Regions from separate parts of the Homo sapiens genome. Here regions 1 and 3 are each linked to region 2. Evidence: fine-mapped expression QTL. A gene starts in region 2. Each other region holds a variant in brackets. All regions are shown on one strand. Distances are from middle to middle.

Region 1 (4,244 bases), 41 kb before region 2:
AAACTTAGCATCATTAATAGTGGGATGGCCTTACCATCTGAGGTTCCTGATGTGATGTATCACCTATGAAGTATTCTTGCAAAAAATATTTATCTGAATTTACTCAAACCTTTCAACCTAACTCAGCTTACCAGAAATAAAGAGGATAGAGAAATAAATGATATTATCAAGAATCAGATAAGTCTAGAATCTATAAAACTGGCATGGATTCTTCCACAAAAATCAAGGCATGACAGATCCAGAATGTGATACATTCTACAATACAATTGGCTTAAACTCTAAAAAAATTCATGTCATGAAAAATAATTTTTTAAATGCAAGAGTACTACTCTATATTAGAAGACACAAAGGAGACATAATGTCCAAACCGTGTGTGAACTCAGACTGGGGTTGGGGAGGGGGAGTTATAAGAGATTTTTTTGAACAACTGGAAAAATTAGAATATGGACTGTGGCCAGATGTGGTGGCTCACACCTGTAATCCCAACACTTTGGGAGGCCCAGGCGGGGGGATCACTTGAGGTCAGGAGTTCGAGACCAGCCTGGCCAACATGGTGAAACCCCATCTTTACTAAAAATACAAAAAAAAATTAGCCGGGTGTGGTGGTGGGCACCTGCAATTTCAGCTACTTGGGACGCTGAGGCAGGAGAATCGCTTGCAACCGGTAGGCGGAGGTTGCAGTGAGCCAAGATCGCGCCACTGCACTCCAGCCTGGGTGAAAGAGCAAGACTCCGTCTCGGGGAAAAAAAAAAAAAATATGAAATGCATATTGGATATTACTGAATTAATGTTAAGTTTTTAATTGGGATAATGGCATTGCCATAATTTAGGAGAATGTCTTTAATTGGGAGATACTTGCTAAAATAGGAGTATCATGATGTCTGCAACTTACCTTCAAATGCTTCAGCAAAAACAGACAGGGAGAGAAAGCAAAAGTGGCACAATTGTTGAATCTAAGTGGAAGGCTTATGGATATTAAAAACCTTAATCATAAGACATAATAGTCATAGAGGATGACAGACCACCCATTTTTTATGTTATTTTCACAATTCTAGGGACCTCCATGGAGGCACCTTAAGTACTACCCACACCTCTGCTTTTATCTGGTTCATACACTGGGATTTCACATAAGATTTTATTGAAAAAAAAGGTTTCACTGCAAAAAAGTGTTGAAATCAATTCTCTGGCCAGGGTCTGCCAATACACAGCAGGCATCCACAGGGCCCACTGTAGATATTGCTGGTCAAGCAGAACATTCATTCCTGCTCAATCTAAACTTAGCATCTCATCACAATGTGCCAATCAGCCACTACCAGTTAGTAGTAATTGGTACTTGGAGTGAGACTTACTTGTTATCTCAGAAATAGACCATCATAGAGCTGCATACTTGAATCATATTGTCTTGGTGCCTCATAGAATTGTTTTCATTCAATCAGGCATCGGTTTTGTTCAACCAGTTTTACATTAAAAAAAAACAGTGATATAAAAGTTGATATTTAATTTATTGTGAGGATGACGTTGAGGATATTCTCTAGTACTTGATCCACAAGAGAAATCTCTCAGGAGTCAGTCTCAGTATTGTGAGGAGCTGTGAGCCTCCTTATCAAATGGTTTGCTTTTTGATTTACGGACATTATGAGTCTTGTACCTGAATGTTTACTTCTTGCTTTGTCTACTAGGAAGCTCAGGGACAAATTGGTAACCTCATGTTATATATTTTTGAGAACTAGCAGTTCGTCTGTATTATCTTATTTTCCCTGCCATTCTTTTCTCTTTAACCATTTTTCTTTGTATATTTATTTTATCTGAAGGTATAGTTTATATCTTTGTAGGGCACTTTGAATCTTTTTAAATTATGATGTACTTAACAACATGAATAAACAGTGTTGGCAGTTCAAATAGAGAGTAAGAAAAATTTGCAAAGAAAATGTAGGTCTTACTGGCAGACTTATGGTGGATCAAAGATCTCCGGCTTTACTCAGAAAGTGGTAGAACCAAAAACAGAAATGAGGAAGGAAAGGGAAAGAGAATTACTTACGTATGATGCATTAGATTTTAGAGAAGTTGATTTTGCAGTTAGATATTCAAGTGGAGATTTTTTTTTTGAGACGGAGTCTCACTCT[G/CTG]TCGACCAGGCTGGAGTGCAGTGGCGTGATCTTGGCTCACTGCAATCTCTGCCACCCATGTTCAAGCAATTATCCTGCCTCAGCCTCCCAAGTAGGTGGGATTATAGGCACCTGCCAACATGCCCGGCTAATTTTTGTAGTTTTAGTAGAGACGTGGTTTCACCATCTTCACCAGGATGGTCTTGAACCCCTGACCTCGTGATCCACCCACCTCGGCCTCCCAAAGTGCTGGGATTACAGGCGTGAGCCACTGTGCCCAGCCTCAAGTGGAGATTTTTTTAGGCCACTGGGAGTATGTTCTAGAGCTTGAGTCAAAGACCCAGGTTGGTAATGTTGATTTGGGAGCTATTGACATTGAACTAATAGTTGAATCCAAGAAGGGTAAATATATTCCCTGGTGAGGTACAGAGACAAAAGACCGTTTAAGCATAAATGGCGTGAATAAAGCTAGAATTAGGGGTTTGGAAGAGAAACAGCGTGCCTGCAAAAATGAAAAGAAAATTAGTCAAGGAAAAAAAAATCATAATAATTTTGCTAGAGAAGTCAAGGAAAATATAATTTCAAACAGCAATATCAAAAATGTTTAAAAATGGAAGAAGATGCCAAAATAATTGGTTGTTTTTATTTGAGAGCAGGATCTCACTATGTTACCCAGACTGGCGTCAAACTCCTGGGCTCATGCAATCCTTCCACCTCAGCCTCCCAATAGCTGGGACTACAGGCACGAATCATCACATTCACCTGCCCAAAATAATTATGATAAACGAGAAAAGGCCTGCTGGCTTTATCAAGGAAGCACTGTTGATCTGTGAATAATGGGGCAGAGTAACATGGTCCTGATCTAAGGAGCCTCTGCATGGCTCTCTGTGGAATTTGCTAGCTATCAAATCCAATTTTAAAGCCATATCTTTGAATTTGTATTAGCTTGCTTCACAAAGTAAATATATGTCTTTAGTGTTCTATCATATTACAATCAAATATTGTAATCACTGACACAAGAATCTTAATGCCTCAGTAATTATGGTCACATGAGTAGAATCTAGAACTACTAATTACCATACAAATTCTAATTCTGGGTTTAAAAAAATGTGATAGGAAGTGAATGAAAATGGATTTTATATAGGACCATGACAGAACTTATTTCCACCATCCAGAAACTGCATTCTAGCAGAAGGCTTACCTTCTCTATTCTGAAGTGTGAGCAGGTCTGATTAAACTTGCTTGCCACCGTGTTGTACTCAGGATCACTAGGCAGCAGCTCCACCACACAGAAATTCTGCTGCTTCATATCACTCCAGTGTGCAGGGATGTCAACTGCAAAGGAGACATTTGAGGATGCCCTCATACATCCCCGGTACACTCTGGAACATTTAGTATCTGTGTTCTTGTTTTACTATCTCCCAATTCTAAGCATTCAAAGAGTTCCTTATCTTTCTAGGAGAACGCTTTTCAAAGCATGAACAACAGACAACCTACATCAGAACCAACTGGAATGCTTGTTAAACAAAAAAAAGGAAAGCCACAGATCAACTGAATCAGCATCTGTGAGGGGCAGAGCCTGTATGTCTGCCTCCTAAGTTTGGATCATACTACGATTTGAGAACTGTTGGTGCAGTATAACTCATCTGTGTTTTCTGTTCAATCTCTAGTAGTCACAATTTCACAATAAATTATTTCCCTACAGTGTTCTAAGTAGTTGCTGTTTTGTTTGTGCATGGATTTTTGCCAGAACTCCTCACCATCACCACCACAGGCACTCTACATCTATTTTTTCATTATTCTTCATAGCATCTTTAAGAGGCAGTTAGGTGGCAGATTTTGCTATGTGACAAGCTGTGGTGACAGCTCTGTCTTCTCCTCTGCTAAGCAGAATACTATATGTGATTTATCATTTCCCCAGGGTTGCTCAGAGTCTCGGGAATCTGTTCACACTGATCTCACAGGAGATAAATATAGTGTAATGGAAGCCAATTTACTCATTTTCAAAGGGGACTTAATCTGGTTCGAAGGTAGGAAGGGCTGCCTACACAAGACAGGGCTTCCCTTCTTGGAGAGTAGGTCTGGTCAGAGAATCTGAAGCCTGCTTCCTGCCATGTGTGTCAAGGAACCTTTTGCTCTTGG
Region 2 (4,244 bases):
CATGTTGCTCAAGGATGGTCTCGATCTCCTCAACTCGTCATCCACCTGCCTCAGCCTCCCAAAGTGCTGGGATTAACAGGCGTGAGCCACCACGCCCGGCCGGTTTTGAGTTTTAATAAGTTTTGGGTCATCTGTGCTGGGGGGTAAGACAAGAGGGGCCACTGGAGCAGCCTGGGGGTGGAGGAAGAGGAGTAGTGGGCTGGGGCCGGTCAAGGATGGAAGCCCAGCAGGAAGACTGAAATCTTTTCTGCTTGGAGGGCTAGAATTGAGTTATTTTATCATCACAAAATTATACTTTGTGCTATTTGTATTTTCATGCTGTTTAAATTTGTATAATTATTTCTTTTTGTTCATTTGGGGTTAACATTAACTACGGAAATTCTGAAACTTGAACACATTAGGGTCACCTGGGCTGCCGGTTAAATACACGCTTCCCACCCACCCCACATTCACTGAACCTGAATCTCTAAAACAGAGCTGGGAAGGTGCCTGGTTAACCTGCTCTCCAGGTGATTCAGATGCAGGTCAGACCTACTTCTAAGGATAATGGAATCTAAAGGAGAAAGAAGCATCCTTAAGGGCCAGATCGATGGTGATGCTGACCTCTGAAGTCAAAGTGGGGAAAACCCTCAAGGAAAAGTGACACCCAAAAGAGAAATGACTAATATCACACAGTTGCCCTTCTGAGCACTCCTTGGTAAAATTAATCCTAGGAAAACATGGTATTTTGTTTTCATAAGGGCCATGAGCCAAGCATATCTCCTGTCCCCCTCCTTCCTTCCTTCTGTGCGCCATTCTTTTTCTGTTTCATTTTTCCTTTTTGGATCCCTGCTTGGGCACTCTAATTGCATGGCCTCAGCCTCAGCCTCCTTGCCTCTCCTCTGGCCCGAATGCTTCTCCAAATCTAGCGACATGAAAGCGGAATTAGGGGTTGACTAGATCCCGATAGGTCATCATCCATAAGATGCCAGTGGAAAAGGTGCCCATTCTGGGAGCTGCAGGTCACTGGCTTCCCATTGCAGACCAGGGAGGCCCTTGAGCCAGCAGATCACCTCTGGGCTCTTGGCCCACCAAGTAGTGGTGGGTCTGTAAGGAGGGAACTTTGCCGACTTTCCCTCCAAAGCTCAAATCTCCCAACCCACAATCACTTCAGAATATCATCCTTGCTCCCAATCTGAGGGCCACTAGAGACTCGGAGAAGAGGCCCCGGCAGGCCCTCGACAATGGGCACCTGTGGTCGATCGACAGCCCCTCCAATGTGGCCGCTGTGACGGCTCTACGTTGACATTCAGGCAGTGTGATTTTAGGTAGCGCCTCTGCCCCTCTCCCAAGTGACCCCGGGACCCCTGGGAATCTCCAAGAACCACAAGGAATCTCTGTGACTTGCCACGTTTCTTAATCAGTTTCCTTCCCCACACAAGAATAATAACAACAGGAAAAGACAGAAAAGGATGATAAGAGGATAGACTCACTTCCACAACAACAACAACAAACAATAACACCACCACAACAGGGAAAGACAGAAAACGATCGAGGGATAAAGAGTTACTTGCGCGGTTCCGCCGCCACCTCCGGGCCGCGCCATTAAGCGCCTGGAAGCGCAGGGCGCCGGGGAACCGCAGCGCCCCGGGTGCGCTCGGAATCCATTCTGCCGCCCCCGCCCCCGCCCCCGCCCCGGCCACCTCCGCTACAGCAGCCGCCGAAGTCGGGCGGGTCACCCTCCCGTGCGTGCCCTGCCGCCATTTCCCTGGAGGGAGGGCAGAGGTGCCCCCTCCTCACCCCACCCCTCGCGCCCCTCACCGTCCTCCGGGTAGAAGAACACCAGGAAGCGGGATGGGCTCCTGGGATCCTGGCGGACCTCACACTCGCCGCCTCCCGACCTCTTCGGGCTCTGGAAGTACATCTGCAACTTGGTGTTCAAGTTCTTCGGGGGGTCGGGGCCCCAGGAGCCCTCGACCAGCAGCGGGAAGGAGCCGGGCACAGCCATCCTCAGCTCCGCTCTCCGCCGGACTGCAGGGGCCGCGCCAACTCCGGGCCGCTAACTTTGACTCTTTCGCTTTCGTTTCCTGGAAAACTCCCAGGCCTTGGTTTCCTTTTGCCTTCAGCCTAACACAGCGGACCCAGGAATGGCAGAGTCATCCCCCGCCCACCTCCCCACCTTCGCATTCGGCCCACAGCCAAGGCCAAAGTAACCCTTTGGGGCTGGCCAGCGGCGCCCCGGGAAGGCGGCCTCAGTTCACCTGTGCTCCACGGGCTCCCACACCCCCTCCTAACTCCGGGCCCCCTACCTGCCGCTCGCCCCAACCGCAGATCAAGTCGGCAGCTTTGGGGCACCAGACCTTGCCCAAACGCAAAGATCATTTAATTTTTGCCGCAAGCCGACCCTTTACAAAAGAATAAAATGACTCACAAACTGTGGCCCCTTTAGAATGTTTGCTGCCTATTTGGGGACTTTTTCAGCAATCATTGTGATTATCAGAATTTTACGTTGCTTTCCCTGTTTTGCTTTCTGTTCCTTGATCTGTTAATACTACATGTCTAGAAATGTGGGGGAAACAATTACACTCACAGTTTTTTTTGTGGAATATTTACTAGGCGCCATGCACTCACTCACTGAACCCTCGCTGAGCTCACGGAGCTATGGTGAACACAGTGGGCAATAGGTGCTCTGGGAAAGAATATACTTGTGTTCCTGGAACAGATGAGGAGTGGCTCCTAGTCCAGCTGTGGCGGCTCAGGGAGGGTTTATAGGGCGGTGACATGTAACCTGATAACCCCAGGATATCAGGGGATAGCCTTGGAGGGTTAGGAAGTGGGGTTCCACGGTGTGATTCACATGTACAGGATCACTCCGGCTGCTGCGTGGTGGCTAGAGTGGAGGCAGAGAGATCAGCCAAGTGGCTACCATAGTGTCCTAAGTGAGAGACAAGGGTGGCTGAGACTGGGGTGCTGGCAGAGAAGAACTGAGAAAACGAGGATTCTCAATTAATAGTGAAAGCAGGACTTGCTGAAGAATGTGAGCCTTGAGAGAAGGAGAAGCTCAAGGATGACTCCATGGTCAGCCATGGATGGCCCGTGCAAGTGGCTGGATAATAGTGGCATCTGCAAGAGGGGAGGCCGAGTGATGGGAGAGAAGCTGGGGCTGTGTGTTTCCTTGACCCCAAATAAAGCAGTGTTGCAAGTCGAGGGGGGCGGGGGGATTATCATTCCAGTGCTACCGATACCTCAGGTCAGAGAAGTGTCTGCTGGACTGCTGAGGAGCGGCAAGCATAGTCTCCTGGTGAGGAGGGAGGAGAGGGAGATGGCAGCTACTGAAGACTGAAAGGGAGGGAAGGAAGTGGAAGCAGAGAGCGTAACACGCTCTTTGCAGAAATGTGACCGTGAAGGGGAAGAAGGAGCCAGGCAGTAGGTTGTGGGGTTACAGGATCGGGCTGAATTTCAGAATGAAGAGAACCAGAGATGGGCCAAATGGTTTACCTGGCTTTTATTTCGGCTCTGTAATAATCCTAAACAGTACACAGATATTTTCTCCTGCCTCCAGCTTGCTACCTGCAGATGGCGCTCATCATCTGATCCAAAACTGCTCTGGACCCCCGCATGCGGAAGACGGGAGGACAAGCGCCCTCAGCCAGACTTGGTGACTGTTTCTCCCCAGGGCCTTTACATCTCATCCCAAACCACAACTAAAATCAGCACTCCTCCTCTCCCACTCTCCCCTGAGTTTGGGGTTCCAGAACTCAGCAAAAAGTTTCCCTTTTTCCTCACATAATTATTGTATAAGAAATAAAGTCAGAGGCATTTCTGGATTACTTTCGAGGATTTATTTAATTATCGACAATGTGTCTTACCACCGAGGTCTGCTTATCATGCCTGGGTGGACTGGGAAGGAGCTATCAGAGGATCAGGATGGCAGGTCTTGAAAGCCAAGGAAAGAAAGTTCTAGAAGGGGCAAATTGTTGAACGGCATTAGCTCCTGCAGTACTTTGTTTTCTGCAAGTTATTTTTGCCTTGTTCACTTGAAGAATGCGTATCCTCTCACAATTCTCTGTTTCCTGTGGGTATCTGCCTTCTGATCCTTTCTTCCTGGGAAGCACGTGTCTTCTCAGGGCCTGGGGTGGGGGTGGCCTGCTGTAGAAGTGGCCGTGTTCCTTGATTCTCCTTCTACTTCACAGCTACAGCTCATCTTAATGTAACAGCCCATGTCTGCATTTTTGGGCTGAACTTCCCTTTCCCTACTTCATCTA
Region 3 (4,244 bases), 23 kb after region 2:
AACATCATTTCCTCAGGATAAATTCTATTACTTGGTCAGGGGTTAGGCATATTTATGATTCTTTCAATAAAGTACCATTTTGCCCTTCAGGAAGACTGAATCAGTTTACGCTGCTTTCATTAATGCATGAGCATATCTGCTTCCCGAAGCCTTGCAGGCTTTGGCTTTTACAACTTTTTAAAAGTTTTTCTAAATTTTTTTAAGGCACAAAATGAAACTTCACCGTAGGTTTAATTTGCAGTTATTTTACCAACAAGGTTGACTGAATAGTTTTAAAATTATGATTTACTGACAGTGTTTCTTGTTGTATGAACTGTTTTTTAATCATTTGTTTAATAGTTGGTAATTTTACCTATTTATATGCACTCTTTATACTTTTTAGTTATTGAACTTTGTCTTCATTTGCAAACTTTTTCTCCAGTCTTCTGAATTTTTAAATTTCAGCTTTATTGGTATTCATTCCACCAAAGATAAAGCTATCTAAGTCATGAACCTGTCCGTCTTTTTTTCATTTATATTCCATCGACAGTCAAAAAGTGATTTCCCCTAGTGCTAGTCTTTTACATATGTGTATTTGTTTTTTTAAATGTATTTAACTCCCAATCTACCTGGATTTTTTTTTTCAGAGTGTAGTGCAAAGTGTGGGTCTTTTAAATATTCTCATTATTGATATTCCTGTACACCAAGTGTTTCAAATTTGTTACCAGTACATTAAATGTCTGCTAGGACAAATTCTTCTCATCACTCTTTTTGAATCTGAAATGCTCTTTGATGTACTTGCTCATTTATTTTCTCCACATACAATAAAAATTATATTAATTTTATAAAGCATCTTGCTTCTAATTGGTGACTTGTATCTAATTCTAATTTAGAATTAATTAAATCTAACCCTGAATCCTCTATGCACTGTGGTGAGTTGAGGCTGAGTTGTGTCCTTCGTAAGGCTCAGCCTGCATTGATTTTACTCCTGCTTCTTCAGGATTTTCAGCAGAAATCCTAGTGTATTCTCCATGCTCTTCCACCTGGTGGGCCAAGAATTCTAATCTTTGTCTTTACAAGACTGCCGAAGGCTCTGTTCTGCTTCAGAAGTTTTCTGCTTCTCTTTTTAGACTCCAGCCTCATGCACCCCTGTAATTTAACAGATGTTCTCTGGAGACCTTCCAAATCTCCTCCCATATCCCTCCTGGCCTCTGCCTCCCAGCAGTGGCCTTCCTTGGGTGCAAGGCCTGGGGTTATCAGTCTCCTCCCCAAGCACAGAATCAGCAGATGACCCCTAGGCACAGTGGCTGCAGAACTCAGCTCTCCCTAGCTGTGATTCTCCCTCTCTGGAGTTTTGGCTCCTTCAGTTATTGCTAACTCAGAAGCCCTTTTCTGCCTTAAAATAGATGCCTCCTCTATTTTGTTCTAATTTTCTGCTTATTTTAGGTGAGAACACATTCTGTCACTAGCTAATTCATCCCACTTGGAAACATAGGTTTATTTCACCTTAAACATTTTTCTTCTACCTTCTTATATTTTAAAACCAAAAAATCTTATTTCTGTTTGACATATTCCTCAGAAAAGCCTATCCTGACTTCTCAGACTCAGTTAAGCAGTACATTTTATATCACTCTCTACCTCTTTTTAAATATTTATTGCAATTTTAATTAATTCTGTAATTTATTTTTTAATTATTTTATTTTATTTTATTTTATTTATTTTATTTTGTTTTATTTTATTTTATTTTATTTTATTT[G/TATTTG]AGACAGAGTCTTGTTCTGTCACCCAGGCTGGAGTGCAATGGTGTGATCTTGGCTCATTGCAACCTCCGCCTCCCAGGTTCAAGCGATTCTCCTCCCTCAGCCTCCTGAGTAGCTGAGATTACAGACACCATTACGCCCGGGAATTTTTTGTATTTTTCATAGAGATGGGGTTTCACCATGTTGACCAGGCTGGTCTCGAATTCCTGACCTCAAGTGATCCACCCGCCTTGCCTCCCAAAGTGCTGGGATTACAGGCATAAGCCACTGCGAACTGTAATTTATTTATTTATTTTTAGAGACGGTGTCTCACTCTGTTGCCCAGGCTGGAGTAGAGTGGTGCAATCACGGCTCACTGCAGCCTTGCTCAACCTCCTGAGCTCAAGCAATCCTCCCACCTCAGCCTCCTAAGTAGCTGGGACTGCAGGCATGCACCACCACGCTCAGGTAATTTTTGTATTTTTTGTAGAGACAGTGTTCTGCCATGTTGCCCAGGCTGGTCTCAAACTCCTGGGCTCAAGTGATCTACCTGCCCACTCCTCCCAAAATGCTGGGATTACAGGTGTGAACCACTATGCCCAGCCTGTAATTTATTTATATAATCTCAACACGCCCTGTTGGTTCTGTTTCTCTAGAGAACCCTGACCAATACAATTATTTAGTATCAGGCCAAGTTAAAGGTTTTTTTTTTGTTTTGTTTTTATTTTTTATTATACTTTAAGTTCTAGGGTACATGGGCACAGTGTGCAGGTTTGATACATAGGTATACACGTACCATGTTGGTTTGCTGAACCCATCAATTCCTCATTTACATTAGGTATTTCTCCTAATGCTATCTCTCCCCCAGCCTCCCACCACCTGACAGGCCCCGGTGTGTGATGTTCCCCACCCTGTGTCCAAGTGTTCTCATTGTTCAATTCCCACCTATGAGTGAGAACATGCGGTGCTTGATTTTCTGTCCTTGTGATAGTTTGCTCAGAATGATGGTTTCCAGCTTCATCCACATCCCTGCCAAGGACATGAACTCATCCTTTTTTATGGCTGCATAGTACTCCATGGTGTATATGTGCCACATTTTCTTAATCCAGTCTATCATTGATGGACATTTGGGTTGGTTCCAAGTCTTTGCTATTGTGAATAGTGCCACAATAAACATACGTGTGCATGATTTACAATCCTTTGGGTATATACCCAGTAATGGGATCGCTGGGTCAAATGGTATTTCTAGTTCTAGACCCTTGAGGAATCACCACACTGTCTTCCACAATGGTTGAATTAGTTTACACTCCCACCAACAGTGTAAAAGCGTTCCTATTTCTCCACATCCTCTCCAGCATCTGTTGTTTACTGCCTTCTTAATGATCGCCATTCTAACTGGTGTGAGATGGTATCTCATTGTGGTTTTGATTTGGATTTCTCTGATGACCAGTGATGATGAGCATTTTTTCATTTGTCTGTTGGCTGCATTAATGTCTTCTTTTGAGAAGTGTCTGTTCATATCCTTTGCCCACTTTTTGATGGGGTTGTTTTTTTCTTGTAAATTTGTTTGAGTTCTTTGTAGATTCTGGATATTAGCCCTTTGTCAGATAGGTAGATTGCAAAAATTTTTTCCCATTCTGTAGGTTGCCTATTCACTCTGATGGTAGTTTCTTTTGCTGTGCAGAAGCCCTTTCATTTAATTAGATACCATTTATCTATTTTGGCTTTTGTTGCCATTGCTTTTGGTGTTTTAGTCATGAAGTCCTTGCCCATGCCTATGTCCTGAATGGTATTGCCTAGGTTTTCTTCTAGGGTTTTTATGATTTTAGGTCTAACATTTAAGTCTTTAAACAATTTTGAATTAATTTTTGTATAAGGTGTAAGGAAGGGATGCAGTTTCATCTTTCTGCATATGGCTAGCCAGTTTTCCCAGCACCATTTATTATACAGGGAATCCTTTCTCCATTTCTTGTTTTTGTCAGGTTTGTCAAAGATCAGATGGTTGTAGACGTGTGGTGTTATTTCTGAGGCCTCTGTTCTGTTCCATCTGTCTATATCTCTGTTTCGGTACCAGTACCATGCTGTTTTGGTTACTGTAGACTTGTATAGTTTGAAGTCAGGTAGTGTGATGCCTCCAGCTTTGTTCTTTTTGCTTAGGATTGTCTTGGCAATGCAGGCTTTTTTTTGGGTCCATATGAACTTTAAAGTAGTTTTTTCCAATTCTGTGAGGAAAGTCATTGGTAGCTTAATGGGGATGGCATTGAATCTATAAATTACGATATTGATTCTTCCTATCCATGAGCATGGAATATTCGTCCATTTGTATGTGTCCTCTTTTATTTCATTGAGCAGTTGTTTGTAGTTCTCCTTGAAGAGGTCCTTTACATTCCTTGTAAGTTGGATTCCAAGGTATTTTATTCTCTTTGTAGCAATTGTGAATGGGAGTTCACTCATGATTTGGCTCTTTGTTTGTCTGTTATTGGTGTATAGGAATGCTTGTGATTTTTGCACATTGATTTTGTATCCTGAGAC

What was found. PIP is the estimated chance that this variant, and not a neighbour inherited with it, causes the effect.
Region 1: its variant is the best candidate, but not a certain one, in a credible set for the expression of PARP14 in lung (TOPMed, PIP 0.59).
Region 3: its variant is the best candidate, but not a certain one, in a credible set for the expression of PARP14 in whole blood (INTERVAL, PIP 0.53).

What each region holds. Positions count from the first base shown.
Region 1 is chr3:122,719,448-122,723,691 of GRCh38, reverse strand. It overlaps PARP14 (poly(ADP-ribose) polymerase family member 14), which reads right to left. Exons shown (of 17, transcript NM_017554.3): 15 at 3,304-3,437. Among named protein-coding and RNA genes, the nearest start is that of PARP14, 41 kb to the right of the region's middle. The variant G/CTG (reference allele first, on the strand shown) is at 2,124.
Region 2 is chr3:122,678,627-122,682,870 of GRCh38, reverse strand. PARP14 (poly(ADP-ribose) polymerase family member 14) reads right to left here and starts at 2,032. Exons shown (of 17, transcript NM_017554.3): 1 at 1,801-2,032. The coding sequence starts at 1,987. RefSeq lists enhancers at 1,294-1,383, 1,925-2,324, 1,749-2,521, 2,925-3,044 and a silencer at 1,635-1,684.
Region 3 is chr3:122,655,973-122,660,216 of GRCh38, reverse strand. No RefSeq gene overlaps it. Among named protein-coding and RNA genes, the nearest start is that of PARP14, 23 kb to the left of the region's middle. The variant G/TATTTG (reference allele first, on the strand shown) is at 1,736.